Homo sapiens: one gene and its partners. The protein of the gene in region 7 purifies or fractionates together with the protein of the main gene of each other region. This does not show direct contact. Each region holds a gene or a part of one and is shown on either strand. Other genes may lie near its edges. The genes, in order: FLVCR1, MPZL1, OGG1, TTPAL, KIRREL1, EIF2AK3 and NHLRC3.

Region 1 (4,339 bases), on a different chromosome or scaffold from region 7:
CAGGTTTTACCATAAGATGCAGCAATTCAGTTACCTCTTCATATTCCACTTCTAATTCCAGTTCTCTTGTTATTCCCACCACATCTGCAGCTATTTCCTCCACTGAAGTCTTGAACACCTCAAAATCATCCATGAGAATGGGAATTAACTTCCTCCAAACTCCTGTTAATGTTGATAGTTTGACCTCCTCCCATGAATCAAGAATGTTCTTAATGGCATCTAGGATGGTGCATCCTTTCCAGAAAGTTCTCAATTTACTTTGCTCAGATCCAAGAGAGGAATAATTATTTCTGGCAGCTACAGCCTTTTGAAGTGTATTTCTTAAAGAATAAGACTTGAAAGTTGAAATTACTCCTTGATCCACGGGCTGCAGAAGGGATGCTGTGTTTCCAGACATGAAAGCAACATTGATCTCCTCGTACATCTTCATCAGAGCTCTTGGGTAAACAGGTGAATTGGTCAATGAGCAGTAGTATTTTGAAAGGAATGTTTTTCTCAGTAGCAGGCTTCAACAATGGGTTTAAAATATTCAGCAAACCATGCTACTAACAGATGTACTATCAACTACGGGGTTCAGGTTCATTGTTCCATTGTTAGAGCTTAGGCAGAGAAAATTTGGCCTAATTCTTAAGGGCCCTAGGATTTTCAGAATGGTCAACAAGCATTAGTTTCAATGTGAAGTCACCAGCTGCATCAACCCCTCACAAGAGAATGAGCTTGTCCTTTGAAGCCAGACATTGATTCCTCCTCTCTAGCTATGGCAGTCCTAGATGGCATCTTCTTCCAGTATAAGCCTGTTTCATCTACATGGAAAATTTGTGGTTTATTGTAGCCACCTTCATCAATCATCTTAGCTAGATCTTCTGGATAACCTACTTCAGCATCTACATCAGCACTTGCTGCTTCACCTTGCACTTTTATGTTATGAAGACAACTTCTTTCCTTACCTCATGAACTGACCTCTGCTAGTTTCCAGCTTTTCTTCCGCAACTTTCTCACCTCTTTCAACGTTCACAGAATTGGACAGTTAGGGCCTTGCTCTAGATTAGGCTTTGGCTTACGGCGATGTTGTGGCTGGTATGATCTTCTAACAAGACCACTCAAACTTTCTCCATATCAATAGGCTGTTTTATCATTTGTGTTCACTGGAGTAGCATTCTTAATTTCCCTTAAGAATTTTTCCTTTGCATTAGCAACTTGGCTAATTGTTTGGTGCAAAAGGACTAGCTTTTGGCCTATCTGGGCTTTTGACATGACTTGTTCACTAAGCTTAATCATTTTTAGCTTCTGATTTAAGAGGAGAGATTTACTACTCTTCCTTTTGCTTAAACACCTGGAGGCCACTGTAGGGGTAATAATTTGGGGGTATTAATCAGGGCCCTGATTTCAATATTGTTGTGCCTCAGGGAATACCATTTGAGATGGTAAAAGCATCAATGTAAAACTAATTTTAAAGATCTATTTTCACTTCTTAATTTTCTAGACTTGATTTGTTTGAATTAGTATTCATGAATCTCTTGTAAAAGTAATTTGAAGGAGGATTACAAAACTGCTCCCTTCTTTGGTATAACAATAATACTGTTTTTTTTTTTGAGACGGAGTCTCACTTTGTCACCCAGGCTGGAGTGGTGGTGTGATCTTCACCACTCACTGCAACCTCCGCCTCCCGGATTCAAGCAATTCTTCTGCCTCAGCCTCCCAGATTCAAGCAATTCTTCTGCCTCAGCCTCCCAAGTAGCTGAGATTACAGGTGTGTGCCCATAAAACTGGCTAAAGTTTTTTGTATTTTTAGTAGAGACACGGTTTCACTATGTTGGTCAGGCTGGTCTTGAACTCCTGACATCAAATGATCCACCTGTATCAGCCTCCCAAAGTGCTAGGAATACAAGTATGAGCCACCACGTCCAGCCAATAGTAATAATCTTAGATAAGATATAGTACTTGCCTAGGAATTAAGAACCAACATGGAATTACTTATGAAAGAACAATAGTTAAAGCAGTTAATGTATTACATATTTCACAGTTTTGTATGTTTTATTTTACTAACTGGACAGGGGGAAAAACTCCCTGTGATAAGATGTTTTTCTTTGAGGAAACAGAGTGCATTCACTTTCTTTTAGCTTCGTGAATGAATGCTCAGGTTCCTATCATTCATACAATTGAGTGAGCGACCTTAGGTAGTTGTGTATATCCAAAATGTCTATCACTGGTGAGATTTCATATTGAAGGTTTCACAAAGAATGATCAGGTATTCCACAAACAGTAGAAGAAATTCTGATTCACATCCTTCTGATAGATTCTCCAACTAAGTTATAACCAGATCCTCCAACTAAGTTATAACCAGATCAACGAAGCACAACCTCCCTTGGTATCTGCGGGGGATTGATTCCAAGACCCCACCTCAGATACCAAAATCCACGAATGCTCAAGGCCTTTATATGAAATGGTGTAGTATAAGCTTGTTCAACCTGTGGTCTGCAGCCCATATGTGGCCCAGGACAGTTTTGAATGTGGCCTAACACAAACTCACAAATTTTTAAAAAACATTATGAGATTTTTTGCAATTTTTTTTTTTTAGCTCATTAGCTATCATTAGTATTAGAGTATTTCATGTGTGGCCCAAGATATTTCTTGTTCCAATGTGGTCCAGAGAAGCCAAAAGATTGGACGCCCCTGGGAAGTATTTACATATAACGTACACACATCCTCCTATGTACTTAAACCATCTCTAGATTACTAATACCTAATACAATGTAAATAGCTGTTATACTATAATGTTTAGGGAATGATGACATTTTAAAAGTATGCACCTGGAAAAAGTTCTGCTTCCAAATCTATTGTACACCCATGTGCATGGGCAAACTATGGATAAAAATTCTCTGACATTCTCTTTCTCTGGAGATTGAGCACTATTTTCTTTCCTGCCCATGTCTATGATGACTATACCTAAGAAGTATAAGCACTAGCTAAGGATTCCACATACTATTTCCACCACTACCACTTGACTGCTTACCATCTCTACCACATTATAACAATAGTAACACATGTTAGGCACGTCCCAGGTGCCAGACACTAGGAACTTTTCATGAACCATTTCAATTAATCCTCACAGTAACCCTATAAAGCAGGCTTTAACACTCTATTATATAAATAAGGAAAGGAGGATTTGAGAGGTTAAGCAACGGGTCTAAAGTCACACTCCCACTGAGCAACAGAATCGGAATTTGAGGCCAGGTCTTCCCAACTCCAGGTCTTTACTACTCTTTTTTTTTTTTTTTTTTGAGACAGAGTCTCGCTGTTGCCCAAGCTAGAGTGCACTCGTGTGATCTTGGCTCACTGCAACCTCTGTCTCCTGGGTTCAAGCAATTTTCCTGCCTCAGCCTCCCAAGTAGCTGGGGCTACACGTGTGCGCCACCACAACTGGCTAATTTTAGTAGAGACGGGGTTTCGCCATGTTGGCTAGGCTGGTCTCAAACTCCTCACCTCAAGTAATCTGCCCGCCTCTGCCTCCCAAAGTGCTGGGATTACAGGCATGAGCCAACACACCCAGCCTTTACTACTCTTATTATAACAGTTTTGCTTGCTATGCAGAGTAACTGTATTGAATTTGAAATCTGCAAAATGAAGTAAGAGATTCATGTCTTTAGAAGAAAACAAATAATGTCCTGCTTTTTATCTCATTTTTTTCCCCTTGAGTTCTGTCAAGCTATTGAGAAGCAATATATATGAAAATTAACACATGACACAAGTCCTTTTGCCAGGCAAACGCCCTAATTTACCTGTTAATATGATGCCTATAAACATCCAGACACAGAGAAAAATGTTCCCTGCCTTAGGACCATAGTCTGATGTGAGCTTTCCTTGAGCCAATGTGAACAAAATTCCAAATATCTAAAATACAATAAGAAAAATCATTCGTTATTAAGTTAAATTATTTAAAGCAAGTATAAAGTTTTCACCAGAACTTTTCTTATTTTGGTTATATGATTTGGTTTCTAGAAACATTCATTGAAAAGTTGAATTGTTAAAACAAAAACCACGGTCAGGCTGGGTGCAGTGGCTCACACCCACTGTAATCCTAGCACTTTGGGAGTTGAGGTAGGCGAATTGCTTGAGCCCAGGAGTCCGAGACCAGCCTGGACAACATGGCAAAACACCATCTCTACAAAAAATAACAAAAAAAATTTAGCTGGGCATGCTGGTGTGCACCTGCAGTCCCAAAAACTCTGGAGGCAGAGGGGGGAGGATTGCTTGAGCCTAGGAGTTTGAGGCTATAGTTAGCCATGACTGCACTACTGCACTCCAGCTTGGATGGCTGAGCAAGACTCTGTCTCCAAAA
Region 2 (4,339 bases), on a different chromosome or scaffold from region 7:
ATTCAGTGTATCACTGTTGCTACAAAATTACTCAAGCTCTATGTTCTAACAATAAGATCAGAGGTATCATAAGGTATCACAGTTTCTAGAGACTCTGAGTTTAGAAGAAGAAACCTACTGAAGGAGGATTTATCAATGAAATCATCTTGGATAAAGGCCTAATGGGATCAAGAAAAAATTGTTAAGTGAATAAAAAATTACAGTAGCCACATGCATTGAAAAAGACAATGAATAGGTTGGGCACGGTGGCTCATGCCTATAATCCTAGCATTTTGGGAGGCCGAGGCGGGTGGATCACCTGAGGTCAGGAGTTCGAGACCAGCCTGGCCAATATGGTGAAACCCCATCTCTACTAAAAATACAAAAAAAAAAAAAAAAAGAAAGAAAGAAAGAAAAAAAAGAAAAAAAATTTGGGCAGGGCACGGTGGCTCACGCCTGTAATCCCAGCACTTTGGGTGGATCACCTGAGGTCAGGAGTTGGAGACCAGCCTGCCCGACATGGCAAAATTCCATCACTACTAAAAATACAAAAAAATTAGCCAGGCGTGGTGGCAGGCACCTGTAATCCCAGCTACTCGGCAGGCTGAGGCAGAAGAATCGCTTGAACGTGGGAGGAAGAGGCTGCAATGAGCCGAGATGGCGCGACTGCACTCCAGCCTGGGCAACAGGAGTGAAACTCTGCCTCAGAAAAAAAAAAAAAAAAAAAATTAGTTGGGCGTGGTGGCTTATGCCTGTAATCCCAGTTACTTGGGAGGCTGAGGCAGGAGAATCACTGAACCTGGGAGACAGAGGTTGCTGTGAGCCGAGGTTGCACCACTGCATTCCAGCCTGGGCGACAAAACGAGACTCTGTCTCAAAAAAAAAAAAAAGGAAAAGAAAGAAAAAAGATAATGAATAAACAAAGGGGTTTAAAGGCAAAGATATAAAGATCCCAGGAGACAACCACAATTTCTCAATTTATGCACTATGGTGAACGGAGCCAACTGACCTCTGCTTTCTTACGGCAGCAAAAATTCCAAAGACTTTTGTCTGGACTCTAGGGCACTGCTAATGTCAAACGACTTAGCAAAGTAAGAGTGGAAAAGGAAAAAAGGAATATCATTCAAGATACATGAAGGCTTAATATCACCAGCCTTAGGGGTCAAGTCTCAGAGCCATATGACACTTGAGACCTCAGGAGATGCTTCTAGTTCTTCTAATAATTATACCGTCTTCGATGGGGCTAAAGACTAATCTATAATAAATTATATGCCAAAGCTTACCATTTTACTCTCCCTTTTAAAATGACATCTGTGGTCTTAGAGAGCAAGATTAAAAATCTTTCCAAGGTTGAGGTACACATGAGATGTATGTCTTACACAAATAATTCAAATTCTCAGATAAAAGATATAACTCAAAAACAGTCAGGCTCCAGTTAGAAGGCTCTAATCATCCAGTAGAGACATGACTGTGGCTGTACTATATTAGCTCCAGTGTGGATGCAAAGTGGATGGTGAGAAATATTTAGTAGGTAGACCAGCATCTACTGGATAGAGGGGAAACAGCAATATTTCTGAAAAGCTATGTTTTTCCCAATTAAATCATGTTTTTAAAACTCAGTGGGAAAGACCAATCTTTAAAGAAACCCTATAACATATCCCTTATAAGTTTTAAAAATATTTTATAATACAAATAAGATGTTCCATTTTTCAAAAATTTGCTGCAAATTTTCATATTAGATCAATCATATTTTCTTAAAAGTTGTGATTGTTGGGAATTTAATCTGTCCTTTGGTATTATTTATTTGAGTAGATGTTTCCTGTCTGTCACTTCTCACTAGCATCTAGGCTCCCTGCTGCATCCCATACATAAACAGTGCCTTGTGCCCAGTAGGTGTTCATTTACGTTGAATAAGTAAATAAATTAGACTTAATGAAAACACAAACTTGCATTTTATGTTCTTTTGCACATAGCTGTCTTTCACTTAACATTTATCTTTTTCTTTTGGCAGCATCTAAGCCTAGTGGATATCCTGGAGTTGGAGTAAAAAATATACATATTTTATAAGACTAAGTTTCTATTTTACTATCCTGACTAGTAAATAAGTAAAAGGCCAAGGGAACTGATAATGAGAAATAAGCAGTGCATGAAATCACACTTTGGAAAAATATTCTTCTTGCATAAACACATATTGAGGACCTACTATACCATGCTAAATCATAACTACATATTGCAAACTCCTAACAAACTGTTGTCAAGACATGCCTATGCCTCACTGCCATTTAACAAATATTTTTAGCATCTACCATATCCACTGTGTTAAGCACTAGGAATACTTCTATAAACAAGACAGATGATTTGTCTGTCCCAGATTCTGATGGAGGAAAAAAAAGAGAAGAAAAACCATATAGAAATTACAATAAGGAAGTAAACGGCAAACCAGCAAATAGTAACAGGTAAGTACCCTAGAATAAGGTGGTCAGAGAGGCCTCTCTAAAGATGTGAAACTTAGAGCCTCTGTGATGGAAAGGAGCCAGCCCTGGGCAACATCAGAACAGCTAGTTCAAAGGCTAGGAGGTGGGAATGAGTGTCACAGAGCAGAAAGATGGCAGTGTGGCTTGAATATAGTGAGAAAGGGGTGGTGGGTGGTACAAGTTGAGGTCATAGAGGTAAGCAGAAACCAGATCACAAAGAGCTTTTCAGGCCATGGGAAGTTTAGATTTCATTCCAAGTGCAATGGGAAGCCATTAAGGATTTTAAAAAAGAAGGCAACATGATCTGATTTGCATTTTAACAAAATCATTCTTGCAGTTTTGTGAAGAATGGATTAAAACGAACCAAGATGAGTACTGGGCGTGGTGGCTCATGCCTGTAATCCCAGCACTTTGGGAGGCTGAGGCAGGCCGGTCACTTGAGGTCAGGAGTTCCAGACCTGGCAAACATGGTGAAACCCTGTCTCTACTAAAAATAAAAAAATCAGCCAGATGTGGTGGCTCACGCCTGTAATCCCAGCACTTTGGGAGGCCAAGGCGGGTGGATCACCAGGTCAGGAGTTCGAGACCAGCCTGGCCAACATAGTGAAACCCAGTTTCTACTAAAAAATACAAAAATTAGCTGGGCATGGTGGCATGCGCCTGTAGTCCCAGCTACTCGGGAGGCTAAGGCAGGAGAATCGCTTGAACCAGGGAGGTGGAGGTTGTGGTGAGCCGAGATCACGCTACTGCACTCCAGCCTGGGCAACAGTGCGAGACTCCATCCCCCAAAAAATAAATAAATAAAATAAATTTAAAAATAAATAGAAAAATCAAAAATTAGCCAGGCATGGTGGTGCATGCCTGTAGTCCCAGCTACTTGGGATGCTGAGGCACAAGAAGAATCACTTGAATCTGGGAGATGGAGGTTGCAGTAAGCCGAGATTGTGCCACTGCATTCCAGCCTGGGCGAGACAGAGCAAGACTCCAGAGGGGGAAAAAGAGGAAGAGCAGCTGGGAGGCTATCACAGTAATATAGGCAAGAAATGGTGGTGACTTTGACTAAAAGGCTAGGAGTGGAGGTAGAAAAAACATCAATTCCAGATGCATTTTAAAGATGGGAGAACTGATTGGATGTGAAGGACAGGGAAGAATCAGGGATGGACCCTAGGTTTCTGGCCTGCACAATTAGATGTATGGAGGTTCCATTTACTGACATGGATGGTACAAATTACTGAGATTTAGTCCTCATATACTATGTGCTCATTTCAATTACCAAATTCAGTGAATTCTTATCACATTTTATCTCTCTTCATCTGACAATGCTGAAATACCAAACTCACCTGGTTTTTCTCTTACTCACAGAGACTCTTTGTCAGGTTTCATATACCCCAAAACTCCGTCTTTGGCTCTCTGCTATGTTCTTCAGTGCATTTTCCCTGGATGCCCTCATCCAAACAATCCAAGCTTTAACTATTAGCCACATAACTCTCTAAATCTCCATTTCCAACCAGAACTTTCTCCTCACCTCCAGAACTGTCTATCCAATTGTTTTCTGCCCATCTCCATTTGGATGTCTTACCCGCATCTCAAACTCAACATATTCAAAAGTATCTCCATCATCTTCTTCCCCCAAGACTCCTATTTCCCCATCTGTGAAAAGGCCAAAAATATGCCCAGCTTCCCAAGCCCAAAACCTATGATCATTTTATCCACCTCCTCTTTCAAGCCTGCATCAATGTTTCCAAGCTCTATCAAACGTACTTTCTAAGTGGCGCATCAACATGTGTCCTCTCTTCATAGCCCAATGCTTGAATTCAGATCTTCATCATCCTCCCCGGGATTATTACAATAGTCCTCTGCCTTCTCTGGCTTCAGCCTCACCCCAC
Region 3 (3,317 bases), on a different chromosome or scaffold from region 7:
GAACACCTATGTGGGCCAGGTTATCATAACCTGGGAAGAAGGTATTACCACACCCACTTTACAGACAAGAAAACTGAGGCTTTGAAAGGTGAAGTGACCTGGCCAAAGTCACATGGCTGAGAATAGGCAGAACCAAGATTTAATGTTAGGCTGTAGTCCAAAGCCCATCAAAAAAAAATCTTTAAGCAAAAATTCATTTTTTAAACTACAGAGAAGTATAAAGAAAAAAAAAGGCTGGGTGCAGTGGCTCACGCCTGTAATCCCAGCACTTTGGGAGGCTGAGGCAGGTGGATCTCGAGGTCAGATTGAGACCATCCTGGCCCAACATGGTGAAACCCCATCTCTACTAAAAATACAAAAATTAGCTGGGTGTGGTGGCGCATGCCTGTAATCCCAGCTAATCTGGAGGCTGAGGCAGGAGAATAGCTTGAAGCCGGGAGGCGGAGGTTGCAGTGAGCCGAGATTGCACCACTGCACTCCAGCCTGGCAACAAAGCAAGACTCCACCTCAAAAAAAAAAAAAAAAAGACAAATGCCTAATTTCCAGTCATCTTATTGCCAGTTAACCCTATTGACATCAAGCAAAAAGTTTTGTCAGTACATGTCATTTTACGAAAGGAACAAAATGTGGCCGGGAGCAGTGGCTCATCCCTGTAATTCCAGCACTTTGGGAGGGCAAAGCAGGAACACTGCTTGAGGGCAAGAGTTTAAGACCAGCCTAGGCAACATTGTTAAGAGCCTATTTCTACCAAAACAAACAAACAAACAAAAAACCGAAAAGAAGAAATATCTTCCCATTTGTCTCCCCCAAGGAAACTATTATTTAGTTTCCTGCAATTTCCTTCTGGAAATTGCTGCATATATATAGCAGCATATATGTGTTGCATCTGAACAAATGGTCTTTCTAGAAATTCATTCAAAGGGCTATATCCTTTCTACTCTTTCTGCACTCTGCTTTTTTCTCTCATAAAACATCTACTTATATCCTTTCTCCTTCCTGCTCTGCCTCCGGAAGCCAAGCCTCCACCCAGCTCCCAGGCTTGGCTCATTTCCTGCTCTCCTCTTAGTGTCAGTAGAGAGGGCAGCTCCTACCCCCTGGGGCCTCACCTTGGTGCCCACTCCAGGCAGGATGCAGAGGGCCTTGTGGGCCTCCTCATATGAGGACTCTCGTAGCTGCTGCAGCCAGGCTAGCCCGCCCTGTTCTTCCAGGATGGCTCGGGCACTGGCACTCACGTAACGGGCACGATAGCCCAGGCCCAGCTTCCTGAGATGAGCCTCCACCTCTGGCCCTGCGGGGAGTGAGGAGGAGGGCAAGCATCAGGCATCTTCAAGTTCTTCCTGTCCTTAGGCTAGTAAGTGAGCTCTCTACCTCACAAGAGTGCTTTTCCTAAGTTCCCCTCCTACCTCCCCACCCTCTATGGGATAGTGGACACTTTTATGTGCAAGGGAAAGGGTTAGGCCTGGGTCCTGTCCCTCTACACATGTTTTCTGAGCACCTGCTATGAATTGGCCCCGGAGCCCAAGTCTAGTCCAGGGACTGAGGACTTGCTTCCCTTGAGGAGCTCCCCAACTGAGTTCCTTAACCTTTCCGAAAGAGTGTTCACACTCATGATCTAAAAAAATAACCACAATATAGCAACAGCTTCTATGATCAAGTGCTAGGCAACATGCTTCAGATATATTATCATGCTTACTTTTCCCAAGAACCCCACTGACAGTACTGCTGTTTTCCCATTTTACATGTGGAGAAAATGAGGGCTTAGAAGAGGTTAACTTACTTAAGAAAGGACATGGGGGAGATAAGATCTTGCACCTAGGTCTGGGACACCAAGACCTGTGCTTTTTCTTTTTTTGACACAGGGTCTTGCTCTGTCACCCAGGCTGGAATGCAGTGGCACAATCTCAGTTCACTACAGCCTTGACCTCCTAAGGCTCAAGCGATCCTCCCACCTCAGCCTCCTGAGTAGCTGAGACTACAGGCTTGTGTCACCATGCCTGGCTAATTTTGTTTATTTTTTGTAGAGATGAGGTCTCACTATGTTGCCCAGGCTGGTCTCAAACTCCTGGGCTCAAGCCATCCTCCCACCTTGGGCTCCCAAAAGTGCTGAAATTACCAGCATGAGCTACCCCACCTGGCTAACGCCGTGCTCTTAACCCATTACACTACACTGCCTCATGATTGCTTTATTCACTCCCAAAGCCCTTCTAGATAGAAACTGTTATTCCCATTCTACAAACAAGCTAAGAGAAGCCGGAAGAGGTGAATGACTTTCTTGAGGCCTTATGACTAACTAAGCCAGGAGCTGAGACTCAAGAACAGGTTTCTTTTTTTTTTTGTTGAGACAGAGTCTCACTCTGTCGCCCAGGCTGGAGTGCAGTGGCACGATCTCGGCTCACTGCAAGCTTCGCCTCCCGGGTTCACGCCATTCTCCTGCCTCAGCCTCCCAAGTAGCTGGGACTACAGGCGCCCACCACCACACCCGGCTAATTTTTTTTGTATTTTTAGTAGAGACGGGGTTTCACCGTATTAGGCAGGATGGTCTTGATCTCCTGACCTCGTGATCCACCCGCCTCGGCCTCCCAAAATGCTGGGATTACGGGTGTGAGCCACCACGCCCGGCCAGGTTTTTTTTTTTTTTTTGAGACGGAGTCTCGCCCTGTCGCCCTGTCGCCCAGGCTGGAGTGCAATGGCATGATCTCAGCTCACTGCAACCTCTGCTTCCCAGGTTCAAATGATTCTCCCGCCTCAGCCTCCTGAGTAGCTGGGATTACAGGTACCTGCCACCACGCCCAGCTAATTTTTAGCAGAGAGCGGGTTTCACCAGGTTGGCCAGTCTGGTCTCAAACTCCCGACCTCAGGTGATCCACCTGCCTCAGCCTCCCAAAGTGTTGGGATTACAGGTGTGAGCCACCGTGCCTGACCCAGGTTTCTTTTTGTTTGTTTTGAGATGGAGTCTCGCTCTGTAACCCAGGCTGGAGTGCTGTGGTCTGATCTTGGTTCACTGGAGCCTCCTGCTCCCGGGTTCAAGCAATTCTCCTGCCTCACCCTCCGGAGTAGCTGGGACAGGTGCCTGCCATCACGCCTGACTAATTTTCGTATTTTTAGTAGAGATGGGGTTTCACCATGTTGGCCAGGCTGGTCTTGAACTCCTGACCTCAGATGATCTGCCTGCCTCGACCTCCCAAAGTGTTGGGATTACAGGCGTGAGCCACCACGCCCGGCCAGGAATGGGTTTCTAAGCACCAAAAACATTCTCCTGTTTTGAGGCAGTCTGTCTCTTTGCTATGCAGTTCCCAAGCACTTGTCCTAGCTTGGTT
Region 4 (4,339 bases), on a different chromosome or scaffold from region 7:
TGGTGAAATCCCATCTCCACTAAAAATACAAAAATTAGCTGGGCATGGTGGCACGTGTCTATAATCCCAGCTACTTGGAGAGGCTGAGGCTGGAGAACTGCTTGAACCCTGGAGGTGGAGGTTGCAGTGAGCCAAAATCGTGTCACTGTACTCCAGCCTGGATGACAGCCTGGACTCCATCTCAAAAAAAAAAGAAGAGAGGCAAACATATGAAGAGCTGCTGCTCTTACAGCAGAAAACAGTCTGAGTCTACAGGGACAGATCTGGCAAATACCAGACCTTCCAGATCAGTGTTGCCCAAAGTATATTTCTCAGGCTATTAGAGGTTATATAAAACAGGGCTCCACAGCAGGCAAATGAGTTTGAGAAACGTAGTCCACTAAGCATAATCAAGTGAGTTTCCTTAACTGCATTCCTGTTCAGAGCCTTTAACATGTAAATTCTTACAGTGAAATTCACAAGAAAGGGACATGCTATACAGCATTTCCCAAACTTACTTAATTTTTTCTCCTCTCCAGATGATCTTACGGTACTAACACTGATCCACACTCTTGATCCTGACACTTGAATCTACAAGGTATTCAGGAGGAGGCATCAAAAGGAGTGCCAGCGAAGGAAAGCCAGGGTTGGCTCAAAGCCAGAATCCAAATGTTTGATAATGTCCAAATGTGCACTGATTTATTTAAATAATAAACCTGGTGCACCACAGGGGCTGAAACATTTGTGGAATCAGTGAGAAGAGCTACTATACCACCGGTGCCCCATAGTTTACAAGGGAAAACACCCCACGTGGTGGGTCAGAATGAACAAGTAATCAAAACCTGTCACAGCTGTGACAGGCTATATTTTCTCTAGGTCTCCATCTTCCCATCTATCAAAAAGGAAAAATAGTTTTTGCCTTGCCTATCTCAGAGGATTCGCTGAGGGACTGAATAGGCCCTGATGACTGTAAAAGCACTGTGCAAGCTGTTAAACACGGTGCAGATATGGAGGGAGCACCACAGTCCCCAGTGACTCATGTTCTGAAACACAGAACATGAGGTGTGAAGCATCTGACCAAAATACAGCCCAACAGAACACCATATCCCTCAGGTCCACAGAGGGCAGGAGGGGCTCCAGCACCTTACGCAGAAGCATAATTTCTTAGGTTTTTTGTTTGTTTGTTTTCTGAGACAGAGTTTTGCTGTTCTCACCCAGGCTGGAGTGCAATGGCGCGATCTCAGCTCACTGCAACCTCCGCCTCCTGGGTTCAAATGATTCTCCTGCCTCAGCCTCCCAAGTAGCTGGGATTACAGGTGCCTGCCACCATGCCCAGCTAATTTTCGTATTTTTGGTAGAGATGGGGTTTTACCATGTTGGCCAGGCTGGTCTCAAACTCCTGACCTCAAGTGATCCACCTGCCTCGGCCTCCCAAAGAATTGGATTACAGGCGTGAGCCACCGCGCCCAGCCAGTTTTGTTTGTTATGAGAATTCTTCCTCTGCCTTCCAGACCAAGAAAAGGCAACAAGCAAATTCTCTAGTTTTTTGGACTCTTGTCTTACTGAAGTACCTACTCCAGAGAGTACTTGAGAGACTGATGAGAACAAGTGGTAAATAGGACTTTTAAATTTCTTCCCATAATGCTTTTGTGTTTTTCAGATTGCAGGTGTGGGATGTGCAGTTTGTGTATCATGTGAGACCCACAGTAAATGGACAGGCCCTGGGGAAAGCCAGAGCCACCACGAAACAGGCAGGACACATACGGGTCTTACCTGGAGGATGCCAATCACCTTTTTGGCTATAAAAGGGCCAAAGTGAGATGCTTTTGATAAACTCACTCCTTTGTAGTCTGCAAGAATTACAATTCCATTCACCTGGGTTTCTTCAGACTGAATGAGTTTTTCTAAGGTCAAGTATATGGCTCGGATGTTTTCAGTAATTGGATAGTTGCTTGGTATCCATCTGTCTAAGGTCATAAGAGATTGACAGTATGTTACAGAAGTTAATATAAATAAGTGGTCAAACAAAGATTTATCTCCTTTCTATCACTGTTGTTTCAAAATGGAAAAGAAAGATATTCTAGTAGCCATGACTCTTATTTAGGTTAGTAAATGGAACAATAAGCAGCAGCTGGTTTCTTAACTCCAAACAGCAGCACATTTTGTGATGGAAATACAATTGAGTGTTGAGGTTAAGAGCATGAGCTCTGGCTGGGCACAGTGGCTCATGCCTGTAATCCCAGTACTTTGGAAGGCCGAGGTGGGAGGAATTAAGCATAAGCCCAGGAATTCAAGACCAGCCCAGGCAACATGGCGAAACCCCATGTCTACAAAATATACAAACACTAGCCAGGTATGGTGGGGTGTGGCTGTAGTCTCACTACTTGGGAGACTGAGGTGGGAGGATCTCTTGAGCTCAGGAGGTTGAGGCTGCAGTGATCATGCCACTGTACTCCAGCCTGGGTGACAGGGTGAGACCCTGTCTCAAAAATATAAAAAAAAGTATGCACTCTGAAGTCAGACACACCTGAGGTTTGAATGTTACTAGCTATGTGACCTTGGGCAAGTTACTATAATACCTCACTCTGAGCCCCGATGTCCTCATAAGTAGAATAGGGTGATAATGCCTACCTTCATGGACATCTGTGCTTTCTGCCATCATGTATTTCCCCTTATCTTCATAGCACTAACCTGATTTTCCTTAGGGAACCACCTCCTCCCACTCTAGCCATGCAGTTTGGATAGAACTGACTTGACTCCTGACTTCAGAGGTGAGCAAGTGACTGGGGATTGATTGGCCAATCTGACAGCACATCCTTCTGGCCACAGTGTGTGATCCAAGCCAGGTCAAGCAGAGTCAAGGAGACTCAATTCTAGGACCCCTGGCCCTTTGGAAAGAGTTCTGTCTTCCCTCTTGTAGTTTTGAGGCGGTGAGTCTGAGATTCACGGGCCCCATGAGGCAAGAGAGCTGGCCTGGGAGTGAAGCCCCTGTTGAGGACAGCAGTGGTGGGGACAGCTTTCCAGTGCCAGAGTTTGGGCCCCTGAATGGAAATACGGCTAGACCTCAGTTATCTGAGCAACTGAGGTTTTTTTGTTTGTTTCAGCTAACGTGAGTTGGCTGTCACTTGCCACACAGACTGAGTTTTGGCCAGATGTGGTGGCTCACGCCTGGAATCCCAACACTTTGGGAGGCCAAGGTGGGTGGATCATTGGAGGTCAGGAGTTCAAGACCAGCCTGGCCAACATGGTGAAACCCTGTCTTTACTGAAAATACAAAAATTAGCTGGGCATGGTGGTGCACACCTGTAGTCTCAGCTACTTGGGAGGCTGAGGCAGGAGAATCACTTGAACCCAGGAGGCAGAGGTTACAGTGAGCCGAGATCGCGCCACTGCACTCCAACATGGGCAACAGAGCGAGACTCTGTCTCAAAAAAAAAGCTGAGTCTTGACTCATACACGACCTTGACGGAGGTATTGTAAGGATGGAACATAGTGCTATGTTCCCCTCCTCTTTCCAAGGTGGATACTTTTTTAATACACCCCATGTATTTAATGATTCTTTCCTCTCTTTGGGAAAAAAAAAATGAGAATGCCCACTTTTTACTGTTAACCACTGTTCTCAAGAAAATCCCAGCAAAATCTATGTGCCTCTTTCTTAAAAGATAAAACTTCCCATTTGCCAACAATGGGATATGTGATGTGTGCAAAAAACTTTTTTTTTTTTTTTTTTTGAGACAGAGTCTTGCCCTGTCACCCAGGCTGGAGTGCAGTGGCGTGATCTCGGCTCATTGCAACCTCTGCCTCCCGGGTTCAAGCGATTCTCCTGCCTCAGCCTCCGGGGTAGTTGGGATTACAGGCATGTGCCACCACGCCCAGCTAATTTTTGTATTTTCAGTAGAGACAGGGGGTGGGGGTTGGGGGGAGGCGGGGGCCGTTTACTGTGTTGGCTAGGCTGGTCTGGAACTCCTGACCTCATGATCCACCTGCCTTAGCCTCTCAAAGTGCTGGGATTACAGGCATGAGCCACCACACCTGACCTGATATGTGCAAAATTCTCGTGAAAGATCTTTGTCCCCAAATTGTGCCAGCTTGCTGTCTAACGTTGCTGCCAATTAACCCTGCCTCTATGTAACTGGATATCATCCCTTTCAATCACATGTCTCAAAAGAGCTTTAACAAAGGCAAAGCTGATACCCAATTGAGAAGAAACCTTTCTGTGTATGCCTCTTCCTAAAACGCTGGGTCAGTGGAAAGGGGTCCAGATCTGCTCCAGACATATGGGGAAAAAATTCATCTCACAAGCAAAGGGTTGAAACTACACAAGCAAAGGTGCAATCAGTGTTGTAATATCTGACTGTGT
Region 5 (4,339 bases), on a different chromosome or scaffold from region 7:
CTGGAGCTCACCGTGCTGGCCACAGCGCCCTCCTGCTGCGTCCCGTCCCGGAACCAGATGATGGTGGCAGCAGGCTTCGCATTGAAGGCCCGGCATGTGAGGTTGTGGGGGGTGCCTGCCTGCAGTAGAATCACAGGGCCTCCGTCAATCCTGGTGTCCTCTGGGGGGACTGTGGGAGAAAGCAGAGCAAAGTCAGTGCAGGGTGTGGCTAACACTTCCCTGAAGACCAAAACTCCTGCCTCTGGAAGCATCCTTCCACCTGCATGTGCGCCTCTAGGTAGGCGGTACCACCCTACCCCCTAATCTACAACCACTGTCTTCATTGCTCTTGTGGTGGCTTCCTCTAGGTCCTCAGCTCACACATCTTTCCCAGTCCTTGTCTGCTTTTCTTTCCTGGCCTATAATATTTTCTGGTACTCCATGCCCCTACTGGTTTATTGTTTGTTTGTTTGTTTGTTTTTGAGATGGAGTGTCACTCTGTCGCCCAGGCTGGAGTGCAGTGGTGCCATCTCAGCTCACTGTAACCTCCACCTCCTGGGTTCAAGCGATTCTCCTGCCCCAGCCTCCCAAGTAGCTGGGATTATAGGCGCCCACCACTGCTCCCAGCTAATTTTTGTATTTTTAGTAGAGAGTAGGGGTTTCACCATGTTGGCCAGACTGGTCTCGAACTCCTGACCTCTCAGGTGATCCACCTGCCTCAGCCTCCCAAAGTGCTGGGATTACAGGCGTGAACCACTGTGCCTGGCTCCATACCCCTACAGTTGCTCAGAGCTGCACACTACAGATGGAAGCCTCAAACTTAAGAAAGGGCTGGGCTATCTCAGGCCCTGAGTACAGCTCATAGTCTTGGGAGTCTGGCTCGGAAAGGTGGCTACCTCCATAGCACTTCTCCCATCCTTCCTCCTGTCTGCTCCTCTGCCCTGGAGCAGACAGATGGGCTGGCCTATTACAGTAACCTCCATGTCACACTGCTAGCAGGTTATTTTTCCCTTCAGCACAGCTAAGTATGTGCCACTCCCCTGCTCAAGCACCTTCAATGGCTACAACTGCCTAGGGCATAAGTTCCAAGCATTTCGGCCTCCTGTTCAGGGTCCTCAAGCCAAGACCTGCATTGCAGTGCTTTCCATATGGCATGCCCTTCTCCCACAGCTTCTATTGAAGTGCTTCCTATCCTGTTCAAATCCCAGTTGATGCACAAGGCTTTCCATGCTGTAGCCCACCCCCACCATGGTGGCCCCCACCAGTCACTCAGAGCTCTTAGCGCCTTGGATTTTGTTTACTTATAACAGTTATCGAACCCTGCCCCAACCAAAACTGTGATCCCCTGGAAAAACAGCAACCCTGTCTCACTAATATTTATATGGTCACCAGTGCCTAGAATGTGACCAAGTAGGCTCTTGCTAAATGTTTAAAGAATTCAATTGACCGATGTATGATGTTGCAAACAAGGGGGGCTCTCCCTCCCCTATCTCCATAGGCTTCTAAGACAAACCAGACTGTAAGTTCCCTGAGGGTAGCGGCTGCTTCTGATATACCATCAACACTTCAATGTCTAGCCCAGGGCTTGGGTGATCACAGGTGCTCAGGGATATTTGCTGAATTAATGAATGGATACTGATGAAATAAAGGCAGAAGGATTTTGATTATAATTTTTCTGGTCCCCCCAGTGTTCATCAACCATAAATGAGAAAGGAACTCCTGGGCTCAAGCAATCCTCCCACCTCGGCTTCCCAAGTATCAGAAACTACAGGTACACACCATCATGCTTGGCTAATTTCTATTTTTTGTAGAGACGAGGTTTCGCTATGTTGCCCAGGCTGGTCTGAAACTCCTGGGCTCAAGCAGTCCTCCTACCTCAGCTTCCCAAAGTGCTGGGATTACAAGCATGAGCCAGCGTGCTCCACCGATAAAAGATTTTGTTTGCTTCTTTCTGGGAAAGACAAGAAAGACCCAGAGGAGGGTCCAGAGGGAACACTCGAGAGGAGTGTGCAGAGGGAACACTCAAGAGGAGATCTTGGGAGACCCACGGTGCCCAGTGGTGGACAGGGCTGTTCTAGAATTTACACAATGAAGGTCTCTATGCTGGGGTTTCCAGTAGAAACTACTCGAAACCTGTCTTAGCATTCTGTTCAACTCATGTGTGCCTAGTGGTATAGTGGAAAAAGAATAAAACTTAGATTCAGACTGCCTGGTTTCAAATCCTGGCACCTTTGTTTACCTGCTGTGTGATCTCGGATGAGTTCCTAAAATCACTGAGTCTCAGTTTCTTCATCAGAGAAGAAACCAAGACATAACCATACTCACTAGAGCCTCATGAAGGTCAGATGAGATACTATACATAGACTATGATGTGCAGGGCATGTGTGAGGTATGGAATGTATTAGCCTTACTGCCTGGACGAGAGTAGCAGTGGCTCCAACTCCTGCCTGGCTAATTATCCTCTGAATCCCTGGCTCTTCCTCCTTGTTCTGTGGTGTATCTGGTTCCAATGCCAGATGGGGACAGGTTTGAGGATGGGGATGGGGAGCAGCTTGAAAAGTAGAGAAAGGTGGAGAGAAATGAATAAAGAGCTGCTGCTCAGGGCCTCCTGGTCTGCTCAGGCCCCTCTAAAGTCACATGTTGCTGCCACACCCAGGAGGAAGATCCTGGATGGGCAGAGCCCCGAGCAGACAACATGCCCAGGTGTGTGCCCGGGTGTGTGAAGCCCCTCCGCTGGGAAGGCATCAGCTTCCTCTACCCTGGGAATGCCTCCTGCCCCTTTGTTCATGCAAAGACTACCCATCTGTCACCTCTGCCAGCAGTCTACCTTTCTCTGAATTTTCCAAACTCTCTGCCCATCCTCCGTGAGCTCATCCCTCATATATGAGCTCGTCCCTCATATATGGGACAAATGACAATAAAGCTGTTAAGGTGCCTGCTGAGCCAGCTGTTAAAGGGCATGTGTCCATGTGTGCATGTGTTTATAAGCAAGTTTTTATGGTTTGTGACTTAAATCTGTATATCAATATGCTCATGTGCCTCCCCAAACTCATGTGCCCCTGAGTCTGTGGTCAAAAAAGCCTCAGTCTCCTTGTTTATAAAACTTCAAAAATACAATGGACACCTACTCCCCTGATTTTGCAAAACAAAATCAAGAAGGTGAAGCCAACTGTAAATGGTGGTGGGATCGACAATAACTTCTGCCACTCAGTGAACGTTCACCTTGTGTCAGCCAAAGTGCCTCCTGTATATGACTTCATTTAATCCCTACCACAAAGTATATTTCATTATTCCTTTCATGGTAAATATATTAACCCCAATTTACAGATAAGGAACGGAGGCTCGAAGAGGATAAACAAATGTGCTCAGAGACAGGAGAGTGAGTTAGAGGGCAGAGCTAGGATGTGGACCAGGCTTGCCTGACCCAGAAGTCATGCTCATCACCATGGTTTTGGAGGTCTGTATATCTATGTTATGTCTGCATCTGCGGGGGAGTGGGAGGCTTCTTTTCAAAGTCCTACCCTAAGGAAGAATGACAGAGGCCATTTTGTGAAGAGGGCCCCTGGCCTGGGGAGCTGGGGGGCTGCTGAGGGGGATGGCTGGGGAGGAGAGGAGTCTATAAGGCTGACATCATGCAGGGAGGCTGATACCAGGCACTGGGCACAGCCCACTCCTCATTTCTGCCCTGCCTAGTCTCTGGGTCCCCCAGCTGCCATGAGCAAAGGCTGTGGGTAAGCAGGTACGCAGGAAGGGATGCAGGAAGTGTCATGCCTTCTTATTGCCTCCGTGTGCTGCAGGTGGCAGGGTGTTTGAGAATTTAAGAGAAAGACAAGGAGAGGAAAGAGTGAAGGGAGAAGGGCCTCCTGGTCTGCTCAGGCCCCTCTAAGGTCACATGTTGCTGCCACACCCGGGAGGAAGATCCTGGATGGGTAGAGCCCCGAGGAGACACCATGCCCAGGTGTTTGCCCAGGCGTGTAAAGCCCCTCCAGCTGCACTAACCGTCCCTGTCTCTCTTTCAGCTTAAAGTTACTCCTGGGGTCTCTCCCTGTTCTCTCATCCACCCAAGTCACCCAGGCAGGCCAGCAAGGACCATACCTTCAATACCCACCATGCCCTCGAAACAAGCCAGTCGGCTCTCCTGCTATGTAGCTCTCCTTCATTGGCCTGCAAGCTTTTAAACAAGGCACTCTTCCATCTAGGGTTCCCCTTGATATTCTCCTTTTCCAGGTTCTTCCTGGATTGAACCAAGCCACTGGGTGCCATTATAAGACATTGTTACTGCAACACTTAGTAGCTTAGCTGGCCTTTCTTCATCTCTCTCTATCTCTGTGATAAGGTAGCAGAAAGAAGAGTATCAAGG
Region 6 (3,500 bases), on a different chromosome or scaffold from region 7:
GCAATAGACACTGCAGAGTACTGGCCGGGGGTGAGTTGAAAAACTACCATTGGGGCCAGGTGCGGTGGCTCACGAGGTCAGGAGATCAAGACCATCCTGGCCAACGTGGTGAAACCCCATCTCTACTAAAATATAAAAAAAAATTAGCCGGGCGTGGTGGTGCATGCCTGTAGTCCCACCTACTCAGGAGGCTAAGGCAGGGGAATCGCTTGAACCCAGGAGGCAGAGGTTGCAGTGAGCCAAGATCACGCCACTGCACTCCAGCCTGGCAACACAGCGAGACTCCATCTCAAAAAAAAAAAAGAAAAACTACCATTGGGTACTATGCTCACTACCTGGGTGTAATATACTATGTAACAAATCAGCACATGTACTTCCTGTATCTGAAATAAAAGTTGAACTTAAAAAAGGTATGGCATTTAGAACAAACACAGCCAGGTGCAGTGGCTTTCCTTTGTAAACCCAACACTCAGGGAGACTGACGCAGGAGAACTGCTTGGAGGGCCAGGAGTTTCAGACCAGCCTATGCAACATACTGAGACTCCAAATGTACAAAAATACTTTAAAAATTAGCCGGGTATGGTGGCAGATGCCTGTAGTCCCAGCTACTCAGAGGCTGAGGTGGGAGGATTGCTTGTGCCCAGGAGGTCGTGGCTGCAGTGAACTGTTATTGCACCACTGCAGTCCAGCCTAAGTGTTAGAGTGAAATGCTGTCTCCAGAAAGAAGAAGAAACATAAACAGAGATAAAAAGTGAAAAATGAACACCTCCCAAAACAGGAAGAATATAAGGTTATTTATCTCCCCAAGACCACTTGCCCTATTTTGAGGGTTCCAAGATCAAGATGAAAAACTCTTAACTTATTCAAGAATTGAAGGAACTGCAGAGACAGCTTTTCCAGTGGAAAGAACCAAAGCCTAAGTCAGACCTGGGTGTACATCCCCAAGGCTCTCCTCTCATTCTCCTCATGGCTTCATTCGAGTTATTTTTTCATAGGCAAAATATGGTTATTTCACCTATCTCAGTGTAACCCAAGTGTACCTGATCATAAAAATAATCTGGAGTGCTTGTTAAAAACCATTAAAGGTTCCCACGTCTCATCCTAAGAGGGAGACTGGGAGAATGTAGCCTAACAAGCACCCCAGGTGAGTCTCATAAGACCAGTTGTGCAAACACTGTTTTACCTTAGTCATTTCCATAGAGAAAAATTAAATTTATGATGTGGATGAAGAAGGCATATTGAACATCTCTGTCAGTAAATACTTTGGAGACTTCTGTCTCTCACTTACATTTTGCTGTAGCTTACAAAAGCATTTATTTGGATGATTCCTCAGCAAGCCCTGAACTCTCACCCATGATCCAATCCTTGGAAGCCACTCTCAAGAAAGATTTTCAATGGTTTCCTAACTGCCAGATTCACTCCCCTCATCAGGCCTGTCTTCACAAAAGCCACCGTTGTGGCCAGCTCCTCATTCTGGACATTTTTCTTTCCTGGTTTCTACAGGACCAGTCCCTCCTGGGTCCTCATCTATCATTCTTTTTTTTTTTTTTTGGGGGGACGGAGTCTTGCTCTGTCGCCCAATGGTACGATCTCTGCTCAATGGCAACCTCCGCCTCCCAGGTTCAAGCGATTCTCCTGCCTCAGCCTCCCAAGTAGCTGGGATTACAGGTGCCCACCACCATGCCCAGCTAATTTTTGTATTTTTTAGTAGAGGTGGGGGTTCACCATGTTGGCCAGGCTGGTCTCGAGCTCCTGACCTCAGGTGATCTGCCCGCTTCAGCCTCCTAAAGTGCTGGGATTATAGGCGTGAGCCACCGTGCCCGGCCTCACCTATCATCCTTATAGTTTTCTATCTATAGAGCAGGCATTTTCCTGTTTGTACTACATGTTCTACCTAGATGGTCAATGTCTACAGCTTCACCTCCATCTATAGTATGACAGCCCCCAAACCTGTACAGGATTTATAGTTCACCATCTCTCCCCTATCCTAGTTCTGCATCTTCAGCAGGATCTACTTGTTATCACCATAACAGGCTCAGGAAACTTCTTTCCCACAATCTATTCCTGCCACTTAAAAGGGTAGCCATCCATCCTATTACCTAACATTTAAATCAGACATCAACTCTTTGTGCTCCCTCATCCTCTACATTTAAACAACAGCCATGTACTCTTAATTCTATTTCTGAAGCTTCTCTTAAATCTTTTCTGGCTGGGCACGGTGACTCACCCCTGTAATCCCAGCACTTTGGGAGGCCAAGGCGGATGGATCACCTGAGATCAGGAGTTCAAGACCAACCCGGCCAACATGGTGAAACCCTATCTCTACTAAAAATACAAAAGTAAGCCGGGTGTGATGGCATGCACCTGTAATCCCAGCTAATTGGGAGAGGCTGAGACAGGAGAATCACTTGAACCTGGGAGGCGGAGGTTGCAGTAAGCTAAGATTGCACCACTGCACTCCAGCCTGCACGACAGAGCGAGACTCCGTCTCAAAAAAAAAAAAAAAAAAAATCTTTGCCTTCTTCATTACCACAGCTCTTGCTCTAGAAGATTCTCATTTCTCATCAGAACACCTTAAAATGCTTTCTAACACATTTTCCTGCCTCAGGTTTCTTTCCCCTCTCTTCTTCCCACAGTTTTGTTTCTGTAATAGAGATCTGATAAACTTCCAAGGTTCCCTGTGCCCACTGAAAAAGAAAGGTCACACTGCTTGGTGTGGCACATAAAGCCTTTCACAATTTGGTTTCGGTGTACTTTCCTAATCTCATTTTTCTGCCTCTTGTACCAGCCCAACCCTCTCTCCCCTCTCCTTCCCAGCTCCACACTCCCCCCTTTCCATGGGGTGAACTTTTCAAAAGTTCTCTTGTCTATATTTTCCTCCATGTCTTAAATTATTCCACCTGCCAAATGAACACTGTGTATAATAAATTCTCCCATCTTTAGAGGAAATACTTAAGAACCAATCAAAATATTCAACATTTCTTGAAAGAACTGTAATTACTATATAAGGTTTTATATAATTCTAGTTCAAAGCAAAGGAACTTCACTTTTTAATGTACCTTCTATTAAATATTTAATTTCCATTAGGTTATTTTAAAATACTGGCAGTCTCATGGATCCCCATTTTTATCTTTGCAGATCTGTAGGGGTCCTGGAGCCCTGGCTTAGGAACCACTGCTCTGTGCTCACTGTACAAACTCCCTGCTCTGTGCCCTTGCTCACACTATTCTGTTGCCTACACTGTCCTTGATATTTTTCTCATTCCGGGACTCAATAACTTGCCACTTCCATTCTTTTCACTCACACTACTTTTATGTCACTTATTATCCATTCGAGGATAGTTAATTCTTTAACACAATGATCTGTCAGGCTTGGAGCTTCCTACGGAAAAGACATTTATCTACTCTCAGGGCCTAGCAGTACCTGGGCCCCAGTAAAACTAAATAAATGTTTGTTGAATGAATAAACCTTGGTAGGACAAACATATTATCTACACAAAA
Region 7 (4,906 bases):
TTCTCTATGGTACAGATTTTTTTTTTAACTGCATTTTCACCTTGTGGAGACATTCAAAATTCAACCCAACTTTTCTTTGCTAAGAAGAAAATAATCTTTGTAAATCATGAGTATCTTATTTTCTCACGTTAAAATTTCTTTAAGTTAAAATTATCTTACAAGCAAGAGCATAAAGCAGACTACTAATAAGGGAATATCATAAAGCAGTGAACAGAAATCAATTTGAAGGTACATATGCCAAATTAATTGATAGGTATTCAAAAGACAAACTGGATACATTGAGCTTACCAGAAAGAAAGTGAATCAGCTTGCATTACAATTCTATGTTAAATAATTTATTTACTATTACACTTTTAGACAGTTGAGCTAAAGTTCATAGCAATAAAAAACACATAAGCCTCCAAGTTTCTAAAAACTAGCAAAAAAGACTACCAATAAAAAATTTTCTCAAAAAAAAAAGGCTAATTTGTAGCCATATTTTTCATTAGAGGAAATTTATTCCTTTGGGAAATGGGAATATAAAACTGTCTTCAGATCTCTGGGTAGAAAATTAGCTGTAATGGAAAAAATGAAGAGATCGTCTGTGCTCTTTTTATTTCTGGGAATCAAGGAAGTCTTATTTTTAAAAATCACATGAATAAAATGAACTCAAAGAAATGGTCTTTAACAGTGGATCTTCAGGAAAAAAGTGAAAATAGACTCTCATTATAGTATTAACAATTCACTCAGTGATAATCTATAGACTTTTTTTGGTTGAACCAGATTCATACTATGTAAAACACAGCATGAAATAAATGGGCCATCAGCTGAGGCCCAGAAATCTTATGGGTTCTGAGAACAGCTGTGATAATGGCACTACTTACAGAAACTGAGAACTCATTATCTCTAAAAAATGGTATCTGAATCAGCCAGGACTGTAGAACCAGGATGTCTCTCAATTCAAGAACATAACTGGGCCAAGGAATACTAGAAATAATGTCTTTATAATCCCATTTCTTCCTGAATTCCTAGGGTAATGCCAGGATATCTCAGGTATTGCCTTGTCTTAAGCTACAGCCACAGGTGAATTGTTTCTCTGAAAACTTTCTCCATAGCTGCACATTCAGTTGTGCTCACTTCATTTTTCAGCTTTTTCTACTAAAAATATTTGATGGCAGGAAGATTTCAGACATGCTTCAGTCAGTAGAATTTCAAAAACATTAACAACAGTTTCTGCAATCTTTGCACTTTGAGCAACAAAGCAGTTACGATTTCACAATCTTTTATGAAAGAAAACTGGAAAAGGAAAATAAGAGTCAAGGATTCCAGTCATTGCTTTCAGAGACTGCCACTTTATTTGGCTTCAGTTTAGAGTTATTTAATCTGAGAAGAGCAACTGATGCTTTAAAGAGGAAAAGACCCTAGACAAGTTCAAGGAAAGATCATATTAACAGGCTCCTTGTCAAATTTCTTTCTTTTTTTTTTTTTTTTTGAGACAGAGTGTCGCTGTGTCACCCAGGCTGGAGTGCAGTGGCGCGATCTCGGCTCACTGCAAGCTCCGCCTCCCGGGTTCACGCCATTCTCCTGCCTCAGCCTCCCCAGTAGCTGCGACTAAAGGCGCCCGCCACCACGCCTGGCTGATTTTTTTTTTTTTTTTTTGTATTTTTAGTGGAGACGGGGGTTTCACCGTGTTGGCCAGGATCGTCTCGATCTCCTGACCTCGTGATCCGCCCGCCTCGGCCTCCCAAAGTGCTGGGATTACAGGCGTGAGCCACGGCGTCCAGCCCTTGTTAAATTTCTTAATTCCACAGAAGTACAAAATAAAGTTTGTTAAAAACATGTGATTTCATGAATCGTTAAAGAAATTACAATTAGATTCAGCAACTCTGATTTTAAACAATACAAACAAGGACATGTGCAAAGATGTGATTTCCAGTAAGATAATTTAATAGATATTACTATACATACCACTTCCTACATCCGTGATCCAGACGGATTGTTCATATAGAGTACTGGCTGCAAATATACCATGAGGTGTGTCAACTGTATAATTCCAGGCTCGTAGGAAATATCCATCCTCTGTGAACACTAATATCTTTGGGATGTTATCCCCTCTCTGAAGGTATACAAAAAATAACTTCTTAGGATCAGCTTAAAGGAAAGGTAATCTGTATCTTGGCGAAGAAAAAAAATAACTGAGAATTTTACTACAAAAACCACTTTCAAAATCTAACATATCTTTCACATTCGAAACCAAAATACTTGAGACCAACTCAAAAATAAATTGCACAATTAGCATGATATAAACGCATATGGTCAGTTACTACAGCAAGACAGGAAGGCTGTTACTTCCTTTGTGTTCATAATTTTTTTAAATCTCTATTTACTTACTTGACCTATGTAAACCAATCCATTGAGGGAGTCAACTGCAACACAAAATGTTGTTCCGGTAAAATATTCTGGGTGCTTAGGCCAACCCACATCCAGCCGGTAAAGAATTTTCTCAGTTCTCCAGGAAACTGCAAAAGTAAAGTTCCTCAAAACCTTAAACAAAATCAGACAATTCAGATTTAGTTTACCGTCTAGGTAAGAACAAAAAAAGGGCGGGGGGGCCGGGTAACAGGGCTTATTTTTAAGCATGCCTTGACAACTAGAAGTTTGCTGGACTGAAATAATTCCAAAGAAATGAGCTTAGATGCCTAAAGACCAACACGACCACAATACAAGTCTGCAAATTATTTGAGGATGTAGTAAGAGTTGGGAAAGAGGAAAATGGCGATGTAACATACACAAATTTTTAAACTCAAAGGGTCAAGGCAGTTTGGACCCAGGTGCAGGCTTTGAGACAAGCTACTGAGGGAACCAGGGCCTGCCACCTCCATGCCACGACCGTGGCGACGCCTCCCAACAGGGCTACCCGCACACCCGACAGTCATTTCCTCACTACCCAACTCACTGGAGAGCCACAAAAACGCGAATGCAAAACCAAAAATGCAAGAAAGAAGCCAGCACCGGCTACGCAGACCCAGAATCTCGCCATGACCAGACGGGAAGCCAGGAGAGGGAGGGTCCGCAGGTGTCTGGGGGAGGACCTGACAGCCTCAGGCTGCAACGGTTTGCAGCGGCACAGAGGGTCTGCCCGGGGCCCGAAGACCCTATCTCCGGTTTCCCCTCCCTGGATGCACGAGCTTTGAGTACGAAAGGGAACAGAGACCAGGGCGAATGAAAATCACAGAAGACCAGTTCCGGACTTCGTGTGCATTTCGGGGTCCCCGCCCTCATGTCAGGTGCTTCGGGCTGACCCAGTGACCACCCTTTCCCGCCCTCAGGGCAGTCCGCGCCGCTGACTTTCAGTGGCCACCAAAGTATGGGCGCCCGTAGATATGCCTTAATCGCTCGCCATTTATTCTTTTTAATCCAGAGGGCAAAATCAAAACATCGCACACTCAGACACGAGGTATGGTGGGGATGACATTCAAAATAATGACCGCTAGGCTTCGGGAAGGATTTTTGCCACATCCTATTCCTACCATCCAGGCATCCGCTATGGATGCCTATATTCCCACACCAGGACCCCACCTCTGGCTTTCAGGAAAGAGGGGCCCAAGCTGGCGGCGCAGTGTTGAGTTTACTTGGGCGCGACTGGCTTTATTGTAGGTCCCCATGAGCTGGTGGGGGCTGTAGGGGTAACCAGGCAGGGCGTCTGGCGCTGTTGGGGCTGCGTTTTTCCGGAGTCCCCCTATGCGAGGCCGTGCCCCTCTTCGCCCGGCTCCTGGTGCTCCCCAGCCGCCGGCCCGCTCCCGGAAGCTGCAGCAGCTGGTAACAAAGAGCCTGCCGGGCCGCCTGCTGCCGGGGCCGAGGTATCCAGGAGTCGGGCGGAGCGGCTGGGGATGAGCGCGAGCCGGACCATGCGTCCGGGTTCGCGGCGGTGAGGGTCGCGGCCGGCGGCCGAGGCGCAGGTGCGGGTCGAGAGACCGGCGCCTCCCTCCCCGCCGCCCGTGGACTCTGAGCGCAGGTGTTTCTACTCTGCCGGCCGCTCCACCTGGGAAAGCGCCTTCAAGAGCTACCTCTGGCGGCACCTGGCCCTCAGCTGCAGGGAAACCGCACTCAAACCTGCCGCCGAGCCCGGGTTTTTCTGCAAAACTCAGAGGACCTGGCTCTTGCCCGAGGTGCCCTGAACCATTGTGTGAATAAGCTGGGGAAGCCTGACTGGAGTGTTTTTTCTTTTTAATAAAAAGAGTTTTTCTGAATCTCAATTTTTAGAAATTTTTTTTGCGAAGTTTGCAATACTCTCTACCTCTTCGCATCCTCTCTTGCTCGTGGAGTCTTTTTCCTCCTCAGCTATAAATATTTTTTACTATCGGCGGAGCAGACCAGGGATGAACGTCTTTTAATTGCAAGTATAACTGTTAAAACCACGTCGGGATAGTAGTCAAGATGGATAAAAAGTCCTTTGAAATGGTGCTGGATGAAATTAGAAAGGTAATTAGACCGATTCCATGAATTATTTTATGAGATGAATTCTCGTGTTTTAGACTCTCTTTGAGGTACTGTATGGAGATTGTGCAGAATAAGGGTCCTAGGATTGCCAAATTGGTTTGAATTTTCACGTGTAATGGAGGAGTTTATATCTTGATACGTTTCCAGTACAAATAGAAATTAAGTTACGTTAACGCCAAATTTGAGACTCAGCACGGTGTCGTGGGAATTACATTTGTAAAGCCCTCGGTTCCAAAGCCGGCTTTACAAATCCGTAATAGCTCTGTACTTTTTGGGTAAGGGGTTTAATATTTTTGAGTTTATTGCCTCATCTTTCAGTAACACAAGAGTGACTGAAAACGAGAGGTAATACGCAGAAAGTTTCTTTTATGGTAGTTATTATGATGGGGTTTTCAAATCTAAGCATAAGGTAGAGTATATTTGTTGC

Evidence for each region.
Region 1: the proteins of NHLRC3 (region 7) and FLVCR1 purify together in Homo sapiens (affinity purification with mass spectrometry; one large-scale study listed by BioGRID and IntAct). This does not show direct contact.
Region 2: the proteins of NHLRC3 (region 7) and MPZL1 purify together in Homo sapiens (affinity purification with mass spectrometry; one large-scale study listed by BioGRID and IntAct). This does not show direct contact.
Region 3: the proteins of NHLRC3 (region 7) and OGG1 purify together in Homo sapiens (affinity purification with mass spectrometry; one large-scale study listed by BioGRID and IntAct). This does not show direct contact.
Region 4: the proteins of NHLRC3 (region 7) and TTPAL purify together in Homo sapiens (affinity purification with mass spectrometry; one large-scale study listed by BioGRID and IntAct). This does not show direct contact.
Region 5: the proteins of NHLRC3 (region 7) and KIRREL1 purify together in Homo sapiens (affinity purification with mass spectrometry; one large-scale study listed by BioGRID and IntAct). This does not show direct contact.
Region 6: the proteins of NHLRC3 (region 7) and EIF2AK3 purify together in Homo sapiens (affinity purification with mass spectrometry; one large-scale study listed by BioGRID and IntAct). This does not show direct contact.

Annotation. Positions count from the first base shown.
Region 1 is NC_000001.11:212,888,698-212,893,036, reverse strand, and holds part of FLVCR1 (choline/ethanolamine transporter FLVCR1), read right to left. Parts: intron 3,892-4,339; coding exon 3,780-3,891; intron 1-3,779.
Region 2 is NC_000001.11:167,724,403-167,728,741, reverse strand, and holds part of MPZL1 (myelin protein zero-like protein 1 isoform a precursor), read right to left. Parts: intron 1-4,339. UniProt on the Homo sapiens protein: Cell surface receptor, which is involved in signal transduction processes. Recruits PTPN11/SHP-2 to the cell membrane and is a putative substrate of PTPN11/SHP-2.
Region 3 is NC_000003.12:9,752,675-9,755,991, reverse strand, and holds part of OGG1 (N-glycosylase/DNA lyase), read right to left. Parts: intron 1,289-3,317; coding exon 1,107-1,288; intron 1-1,106. UniProt on the Homo sapiens protein: DNA repair enzyme that incises DNA at 8-oxoG residues. Excises 7,8-dihydro-8-oxoguanine and 2,6-diamino-4-hydroxy-5-N-methylformamidopyrimidine (FAPY) from damaged DNA. Has a beta-lyase activity that nicks DNA 3' to the lesion.
Region 4 is NC_000020.11:44,481,944-44,486,282, reverse strand, and holds part of TTPAL (alpha-tocopherol transfer protein-like), read right to left. Parts: intron 1,947-4,339; coding exon 1,753-1,946; intron 1-1,752. UniProt on the Homo sapiens protein: May act as a protein that binds a hydrophobic ligand.
Region 5 is NC_000001.11:158,080,252-158,084,590, reverse strand, and holds part of KIRREL1 (kin of IRRE-like protein 1 isoform 1 precursor), read right to left. Parts: intron 170-4,339; coding exon 12-169; intron 1-11. UniProt on the Homo sapiens protein: Required for proper function of the glomerular filtration barrier. It is involved in the maintenance of a stable podocyte architecture with interdigitating foot processes connected by specialized cell-cell junctions, known as the slit diaphragm.
Region 6 is NC_000002.12:88,617,465-88,620,964, forward strand, and holds part of EIF2AK3 (eukaryotic translation initiation factor 2-alpha kinase 3 isoform 1 precursor), read right to left. Parts: intron 1-3,500. UniProt on the Homo sapiens protein: Metabolic-stress sensing protein kinase that phosphorylates the alpha subunit of eukaryotic translation initiation factor 2 (EIF2S1/eIF-2-alpha) in response to various stress, such as unfolded protein response (UPR).
Region 7 is NC_000013.11:39,036,753-39,041,658, reverse strand, and holds the start of NHLRC3 (NHL repeat-containing protein 3 isoform a precursor), read right to left. Parts: upstream 3,204-4,906; 5' UTR 3,020-3,203; coding exon 2,936-3,019; intron 2,524-2,935; coding exon 2,371-2,523; intron 2,096-2,370; coding exon 1,948-2,095; intron 1-1,947. Other genes in the region: PROSER1 (proline and serine-rich protein 1), read left to right, coding at 4,417-4,461.